Linked DNA regions of Homo sapiens: region 2 is linked to region 1. The links come from fine-mapping of genetic effects on gene expression. A gene starts in region 1. The other region holds a variant in brackets. All regions are shown on one strand. Distances are between the middles of the regions. Region 1 holds the start of TENM2 (teneurin transmembrane protein 2). Region 2 overlaps TENM2 (teneurin transmembrane protein 2).

The links. PIP is the estimated chance that this variant, and not a neighbour inherited with it, causes the effect.
Region 2: its variant is the best candidate, but not a certain one, in a credible set for the expression of TENM2 in lymphoblastoid cells (GEUVADIS, PIP 0.71).

Annotation. Positions count from the first base shown.
Region 1 is chr5:166,977,357-166,981,753 of GRCh38, reverse strand. It overlaps TENM2 (teneurin transmembrane protein 2), which reads right to left and starts at 2,725. Exons shown (of 31, transcript NM_001395460.1): 1 at 2,231-2,725. RefSeq lists enhancers at 2,667-3,166, 3,167-3,668.
Region 2 is chr5:167,835,773-167,840,169 of GRCh38, reverse strand. All of the region lies in intron 4 of TENM2 (teneurin transmembrane protein 2), which reads right to left. Among named protein-coding and RNA genes, the nearest start is that of TENM2-AS3, 120 kb to the left of the region's middle. The variant C/T (reference allele first, on the strand shown) is at 2,449.

The DNA of each region.
Region 1 (4,397 bases):
AAAATGTTCTTTAAATCAACGTACTCATAGTCTTCGAGTCTAGTGAAGATACTGAAACTGAAGCTAATTTTGATGTTTCATAAATAAATTCATGATCTGAATATGTTACATAACAATTAGAAATCTTGCCCCACGAGCCTAGCAAAATAAGCCCTTAGCCTGGTCAGTTATCTTTTCCTACACATGTGTGTGGAATATGCCAGAGAAATAATACAGCTGCCCAGCATGGGGTATATTGCTTTTTGGTTTGGGTCCTAGAAGGAGGGAACCTGACGCTTTAGGTACCTTGGGTTCTTAGGATTGAAGTTTACTATATGAAATCATTTTTCTTTAGTACCTAGACAAACAAATGCTTCACTCAAAGACAACTGTGGTCTTAATGAATGCAAGCTGGATTTTCCCCCCACTAACTTGATCAAAACAGTCCATTCAAAGGTCCATGAAAATATTTTAAAACAGCAATATTGCCATCTCAAGGGACCCATGAATAAGCTGAGCTTTCATTCTAAATAAAATGCCTTATTACTTTCAGCAGACTACAAAGGAAGAAATAAGCTTTAGGTCTTAGGAATTCTGTTCACAATTTTAAGAAAGGCTTTTGTCAACACAGGGGACCCAGAACAGGTGAATTTGCATGGTGCCTTAGAGTAGGTTTTTTTCTACATAAAAGAAGATCTGACTAGTTGAGTTAATTTACAGTTTGTTTTGTTTTTTGGGGCTGAAGAGCCTTCACTTTTTCATGTAGTTCTTCCAACATTAGTTAAGTTTACATTTAAACAAAGTTTAAGAGTATTATTGCAAACGTATTCTTGGCACATAGACAAGTTGCTGCTCTATGATGTGGCAACCACCTAGCAGAAGGAGGGTTCCTTGAATAACAACATTTTCCCTCTGTAGAATGTATGTGTCTCAGAGTATCCCTGAACTGGATGTCCTCATCTCAGTTTAGAGTTCAGGGTTTCTCAGGATGATGATACATGTACAGAAACTGCAACCTGCTGTACCACAGAGGCCCCCTTCCTCCATTTAAGCTGCCATTATATTAGTTCATTTTTCCATGGCTTAGCAGAAATTTTACAACTATACACTGATTCCTTTCTAAATTGCTGATTTGCCTTTACTCACTGGCCCTTCAGTTTTTCTACTCAACTGGAACTGAAAACTTAAGAGGAAAAAAGCAAAACAAATAAAACATGGTAATGATCAAGAACCCTCCAAAGAACTTTAAATGATATGAATGCATTAAAGAGCTGTTGTATATTAATTTTTAAATAATATTTAAAACAGATCCCGGCAGCCAGAGTTACAGAGTGAGTTCTATTTTTAAGAAAAGAGTTAGAGTTCAATTTGCATTCATTATGCTGGCTATTTTAAATAATTTTATTCCATGTGTATGCAGAACCCTCCCCTCCATTGACAAGATGCCACTTCAAGTAAGATCTAAGAGAGATATTGCTGTACGTGTCTCACAATTTTGAATAAAACAGTACCAGCAATCTCCCTCTTTCTCCATAGCCCTAAATTTATTATTAAGTAAATTTAGCAATAGCTCAATCACTGGAGCCCAAGACAGTATGTGATGCACTAAAGCACTTATATGTTTATTATCTTTTGCAAGCAACATGGGTAGTGGTGTCTATTATTGCCTCCTGCAAATCTGTAGCAATGTGATGCAAAACGGCATTTTTAAAGAAATTCTCTTTTGGAATGCAAATGATTCCTCCTGCAATTTTGAATATTTTAGCCAGCATGTACCATACAGTAGTTCTGGAATCACTGGCATCTCTCATGCTGTCAAAACTGAGTCAAATGCATTGTAATCCTGGAGAACGATAACCTTAAACAGCAATGCAACGTTAAAATGCATCCTAAAAAAAAATCCCTATAATTGCGATGAACATTAGAGAGAAACCGGCAGTCCTTCTGCAGGGAAATAACAGTCTGCTCTAGCAATCTTTCCCCTCCCCCCCTGAAACTCATGCAACTAATGATGACCTCCCGAAGTGCCGAATTTAAATGTTCCAGCATTCATCTGAGGATGAAGGAGGAAAAAAAAATACATAGAAAACCATGAAACAAGTTGTAAACTGCACAAACGCAAGGAGAGAAAGAGAACTGCAGCTGATTCAGGAGCGATTGCAGAATGAGGAGCAACAGAAAGGAAACAAGAAAGAAAGAAAAGGGGAAAAAAGCCTTAAGCATTAAAGAGTAAGAAGTGAAAAACATTTACCAGCAGCTCGGTCAGTAGCTTCGCTCCCTGACACCATCTACATAGATAACTTAGCCTAGAGTCTTCGGTCCCAGCTCGCTTTGGAGCAAAATTCCTTCACTTCGAGGGGGCAACACACACCCTCAAGAAAGAGAGAGAGAGGGAAAGAAGGGGAAAAAAAATAATCCCAAAGACCAAGACAGGCTTTCCCCCTCCTCCCTCTTACCCGCCCCCCGGACTCCCCAAACGGTGCTCGCTTCTGCACAGTTCTGCCTGCTGTGCCGCTGAGCTCGATGTTGCCGCGGCGGCTGCTGCTGCTGCTGCTGCTGCTGCTGCTGCTGCTGCTGCTGGTGGTGGTGCTGCTGCTGCTACTTCGGAAACGATTAGGAGGAGGACGCCCAAGCACGACCTGAGCCTGCGAGCCACCCAGGACCAATGTGCAACCTGCTCTGGAATCAAACCCATAACACACGCACGCACACCCAGTGACTCCTGCACGCGAGCTCTCGCGCGCACACACGCGCTCGCCCGCGCGCCGCACAACACACGCGCGCGCGCGCACACACAAACACACACACACACACACACACACACACACACACACAGAGCGCCGTGCGCCGCCCGCTAGCCCTCGCGGTCCCTGAATGGGGAGTGCGAGCCAATCCCTGGGCCCCGAGAGCGCGCACCGGCCCAGGCCGCCGGGGTTGGGTGGTGGCGCTGGGGCTGCAGCTGCTGTGGCTGCGGGGTACGCAGCCAGGGAGGGGCTCACGGCTGAGAAAGAGGGGCGCTAGGGACACGTGCACCCCTTTGTCTGCAGAGAGAACCCCAGCTGGGCGTTTCCAAGACCAGGAACTGAGCGCGCGAACCCCGGGCGGCTCAGAGTTCAGTTCGGCTCTAGGGTTAGCCTGAGGAGGCTTGGATCCCTAGCTGCACGCACCGAGGGATCCGCTCGGCACCCGATGCACCACATCTATGCACCACAGCTACACCCAGGTCTCTGCAAACAGGAGAGCACAGCAAGCCTTCGAGTCCTGCGGACGACCCGAGCCTGCCCTGGCTCTCGCGAGCATGTCCAGTGCTTGGCTGCACCCAGACCGCTTCTTCCAGGGTTAGGAACGCAGAGCAGGGCAGAGCCGAGCTCTGCAGCTTCCAGAGAGAAGCAAAGGTTCCAGAGTCTTCAGCCGCTGCTCACCTGCCTCATCTAGGCTGCCCGGTGGCTCTGAACCTGCACCCAAGGACGTAGTGATGGGGAAGCTAGATTTCCAGACGTCAGAGAGGAGTTACTTCTCTTTTTTTCATATAGGGAATCTTTGAAAAGAAACAATTCTTAGCCCAGGAAAGGCTGTTTCAGTTTACAGGGTAATTAACAGAAAATCCAGCAGGGCCTGGTGGTTTTAATAGTAACAGCTGAACAAGTATTGCTTGTTCAGCTCTGTGCAGGCTCTGTGGAATGTGTTGCCTATGAATTATCTGATTTTAACCTGTTCAGACACTGTATGATCCACCCTAGGAGGAAACCGAGGCCCCAGAATGTTACCAACTGCTAGTATATCATACCCAATACATCAAGAATCTAAACCCTGCAGTCTGGCCCTCAGTCACTGGAGACAGGATGAGGAGTGTGGATGAACGCTAGGCAAGTACAGCAAGGTAAAGGCCTGGTGGGTGTTTGGGTGATAACATCCTCTGGCCTTCAAGCTGTACCTGGCTTGTTGTCTTCAATAACCTACAAACCTTGAAAAACTGCATGCCTGAAATTTGCCAATGTCTTCATAGTACTAATATTAATAATACTTATCTCTTGATTACATACTCTTGTTCATCCTTTAATTAGGTGCCATCTTAATCTTTAAAGGAACTCTGTAAAGAAACTATCCTACCCCCCTTCTACATATGAGGAGGCTGAGACTGAGATGTGGTGTCACTTCCCTCAAGGGACAGGCCCTGAATGAAGACACTGTTTGTCCTATTGCAAGGTCTATGCTGTTTTTTACTAGAATTTGCATCTCCCTTAATTGCCTTCTGAATAAAGCCATGGGATGAGGCCATGGCAGTTACTTTTGATTTCATTCAAGAAATTCATTGATTTTGTAACATTCACTCATTCAAGGATATTTACTGAGCATTTACTTCCTTCAAGGTGCTATCCTAGTGGTGACGGGATGACAAGGGCATTATCTCTATACTC
Region 2 (4,397 bases), 860 kb before region 1:
CCTTATGGGCAAAGCATTTGCTGGGTTGGCCTTGAATAAGGAAAGTTTGGGTTGGGTGTGGTGGCTCACGCCTGTAATCCCAGCACTTTGGGAGGCCGAGGCGGGTGGATCACCTGAAGTCAGAAGTTTGAGACCAGCCTGGCTAACACGGTGAAACTCCGTCTCTACTAAAAATACAAAAAAATTTAGCAGGGCGTGGTGGCGCATGCCTGTAATCCCAGCTACTTGGGAGGCTGAAGCAGGAGAATTGCTTGAACCCGGGAGGCGGAGGTTGCAGTGAGCCAAGACCGTGCCACTGCACTCCAGCCTGTACAAAAAAAGCAAAATTCCATCTCAAAAAAGAGAGGAAAGCTTGTGAATTAGATAGGTAATTTAATTTTTTTCCTAACATTGGAAAATTTTCTGTCACTAAAAAATAAAACAAATAAGCAAAAACTGGTATTCCTTCCTTAGAGAAACTGCAAACACTGCATGTGCTCATTGCTAATAAGGGGTATATTTTCAATATCAATAGAAATTAGGTCATTATATTGGAAGACAGGGCATTACATTCACTTTACATTTTGGTCTCCATTCTTTAAACACATACATACATACACACACACACACACACACAGACACCTCACACTTTTTCATTTCTGAAATGACAGCCAGTTAAAAAAATCCATACATCAGGGCCTATCTAACCTCTTCGTTTTTTCTTTTCTAAAAGCTATGATGCCTTGGTTTTCGATGCTAACAAATGTCATATGACAGGTTCACCGATTTACTGTTCTGCACCCTTTTTAATTATGGATGTATGAAGGAAAATTTCACTGAGGAAAACAATAAATCATCAGTGAAATTATTTGTTCGTTGAATGAGCTGAATAAACAGTTGCCTTCGGGGCAAAGATTCATCTGGCATCTCTTAAGTCATCCCATATTTTTTCCTTTCTATTCTCATGAAAAGCAGGACTGGGCCTGTAAGAATCAACTGGGAATGTGGGTGTCATTGAGAAGCAGAGGAACCAGTAAACACCCGACTCACAGATGTCCTGAGTGTTAAACGAAAGGATTTTTGTCAAGTTTTAATCATAACAATGACAATACTTATCAACACTCATTGAGTGTGCTTTGTGTACCTGTGTCATTTCATTTGATTCTCACAACAACCCATTTCCCTATTCCTATTTCACTCAAAATAACACCCTAAACTAGAAAGCAGCAAGCCCAGAATTTGAACCAATTTCTGACTCCACGCCCTGCGGTCTCAGCCATCAGGTGCTTATAAATTTCCCCAAAGAAAGCCACACTTCCTCAAAGAAGTCCTCATTCATTATTTAAGCTTTAAAAAGAACAAACCCAAGTTCACGGTTGAAACCCCGATCTATAATTTTGCTTTAGACTTATAGAATCCTCTTTTTTCCTGTATAGGTGATGAAAAAAGCAGATTTTCCAGTGCCTCCTCTCAGAAAACCGAGCTTGATCAAAGTATGCAAAGTAGGCAAAGAATCGGCTGAGATAGGAATCACAGAAAAATGTGCTATCATATGAGTTTTTAGGAGGAGGTGAGGGAAATAAGAGTAATGAGATTATTAGTTTCAATTTGAAAGCATGGAATGTGTCAGCAATTATAACTAACTGTTGCTATTTTTATAATAAATGTCACCCTCAGAGTTCCAAGCAGACAGTAAGCAATGGAAGCTTCCATGTAGGAATCAGTTTAGTGTCCTTCTTTCATGTCCCTGTTGAACTAGTCCAAAAAGTTATGAAGAAACATGGCCACTTTGAACGCATTCATACAAATAGTACTGACAGTTTTCAAGCTAGGACAAATATCTCAGCTTTGGACTTCCTCCCACAGCAGCCAGTCAGCTGCCTGTAGAGAATCCCATAAATATCTCGGCTGGAACATTTGTTTGAAGATACTTAAATGGACCCTGGAGATCCCAACATTGGAAATAGATTTGAGCCAGGTAATCAGATATTCACTGCCGACCATTTCTGTGGCTACTGTTGTATCACCAAGCATCAGATTCCTCGTCATTATACTTATCAGCCATTGCTTTATGTCAGAAGTTGCCAACTTGTGTGGAGTGAATTGCTGTGAGTTAGTATTTCACACTAGTGGTTCAAGTCGGTATTTCTTCTGGGCATTTCCCATTTGCCTCAATACTAAACCAGGTGGGGATGCACAAAGGGATTCACTTGGACATTCTGAGGGGAACCAAAAGGAGGATGAAGGGGCCCTGGGAAGTGGAAGACAGACTTCAAGGTCCCTGGGACAGTTTTGTTTGTGGTTTCATATGCTGCGCTAAGTAGATGCACTAAGATGCACCTACTGCAAATGCGTAAGAGCGTGAAGGTGGCAGAAAAAAAAAAAACCAAGCCCTTTTTCAGGTAGCATGGGAACTAGTTGTGTGGTTGGAGTCTATTGTTCTTTGGCACTGAACACCTACTTGGTAGT[C/T]TTGAGTCAGAGCAATCTTAAGAGATTTTTAAAAAGCACAGAGAATTTAAAGTTTTAACTGTGCAAATAAGAATATGGATATCTTAATAGAAAGTGGATGAGGTGGGGTGAACATGCCATTCACAATGTATACCTATGCTCTCCTTAATACATAAAAATGTTTGTCAGCATCTTTTGGTCAAATTAATGTAACCTTTAGAAATGAATGAATGCTATGTTTTAGACTAGTAATGAAACCAACATTTTAATAAATGTTAACATCTAGTGCTGGGAAAAATATGGGAAGTCATCCCTCTCATATACTGATGAGAGAGCGTATTTTGATCTACAACCTTTTTGGAGGGTGATTCAGCAGTAGGTTCATACTCCTGAATCACTCACCTTGTAGGATGTTTTCTTGAGGTAATTATCAGTGATGTATACAAAATATGCAGGGTGGCTCACTCTTTCAGCTTTTTGTAATGGTAGAAACCAAGAAATTTAATATCCAACAGGGGTGGAATGCTTAAATAACCAATGGCGAAACTACATATTGAATCACATGTAGTCCTTACAAATAAAATTTTACAAGAATAGTAAATCATGTGAGAAATATATTATAAAACACTATCCAGATATATCTCTGTGTGTGTGTGTGTGTGTGTGTGTGTGTGTACTTAGGCATACATATATACTATAAATGGAATTATAGGAAATTTTCTTTGCATTTTTCTTTCTACTTTTTTGAATTTACCCAACTCAGGAAAATGACAGTAGTTTATATACTACTAGTAGTTTATATAACTATATGAAAAAAGCAGATTTTCCAGTGCCTCCTCTCAGAAAACCGAGCATGATCAAAGTATGCAAAGTAGTCAAAGAACCGGCTGAGATAGCCGGTTTGTAGTTTATGTAACTACAAAACTACTAAAGCACTTTATGATCATTTTTTTCTGAGTTGGGTATATACACACATATATTGAGATAAATATGTATCTTTACTGTTAATTCTGCCCCCCTCTCTGATGTCACTGATTTAATTAACCTGTGAGTCCTATAGTACATGAACACTTGGCACCTGTCCTTCTCCCAGAATGTTCACACTTATCCCAGTGCAACAGATAAGGCAATGTGATGAAAGTCCTGGTGAACATGGTTACAAGTGTGACATTTTTTCTCTATTTATTATTTTTTTGTCAGGTAGCTACAAAGCAAAAGTGAGCAAACTTGATACAGAAATCCAAAAATATATTATTCCATAGTTGGATGGGTCCTTAAAAAGATGTCACAATTTGTCACAGAGGCTGCCACCTCAATTGGACCATCCACAAACTCCTAATGGCATTCTCAAGTGGTCTTAGATGTTTCCAGTGTGAGTTCCTGGAGGTAGGGCCTGGTCGGAAACCCTTAGGTGAATGGGACTGTTTGTTAACTCCAATAGACAATTATGAAGGGCAATTAAAAATTTAAATTATGTTAACAGGCCAGAGAAAAATGACTGTTTGCAGAAATCAGTGGCAATTACCAGACATAATGGTTCTCAGTTAGGCTGGAGGGGATTTTCAGTCATTCATAATTCACTATCTTAAATGTATCATAAAAAAGTAATTGTCACTTGTTAATAAAACTTACTTAAAAACAACGTTGCTATCTTGTGTAGAAAGTAACTCTTTCTTCCTTCTCCCCCACCAGTTTTAAAAAAGGTATATTCTTAATTTTAAAATGTAGTGCAGGCTGGTTCAAAACAAAAATCAAACAATGTGGATGTGTATTTTAAAAAAATACAGTCCTTTCCAGTCCTCTACTTGCACTTCCCAGGGGTAACTGTTGTTTTATCAATTGAGTGTTCTTCCTCCCAACCACCTCCTAGTTTCCATTAAAAAGGGGAGGGGTGTTGGGGTGACTGTCCAAGGAATATGTTGTATTGATATTTTTAGTCAATTAAAAGTGAAAACATAAAAACATTGTCT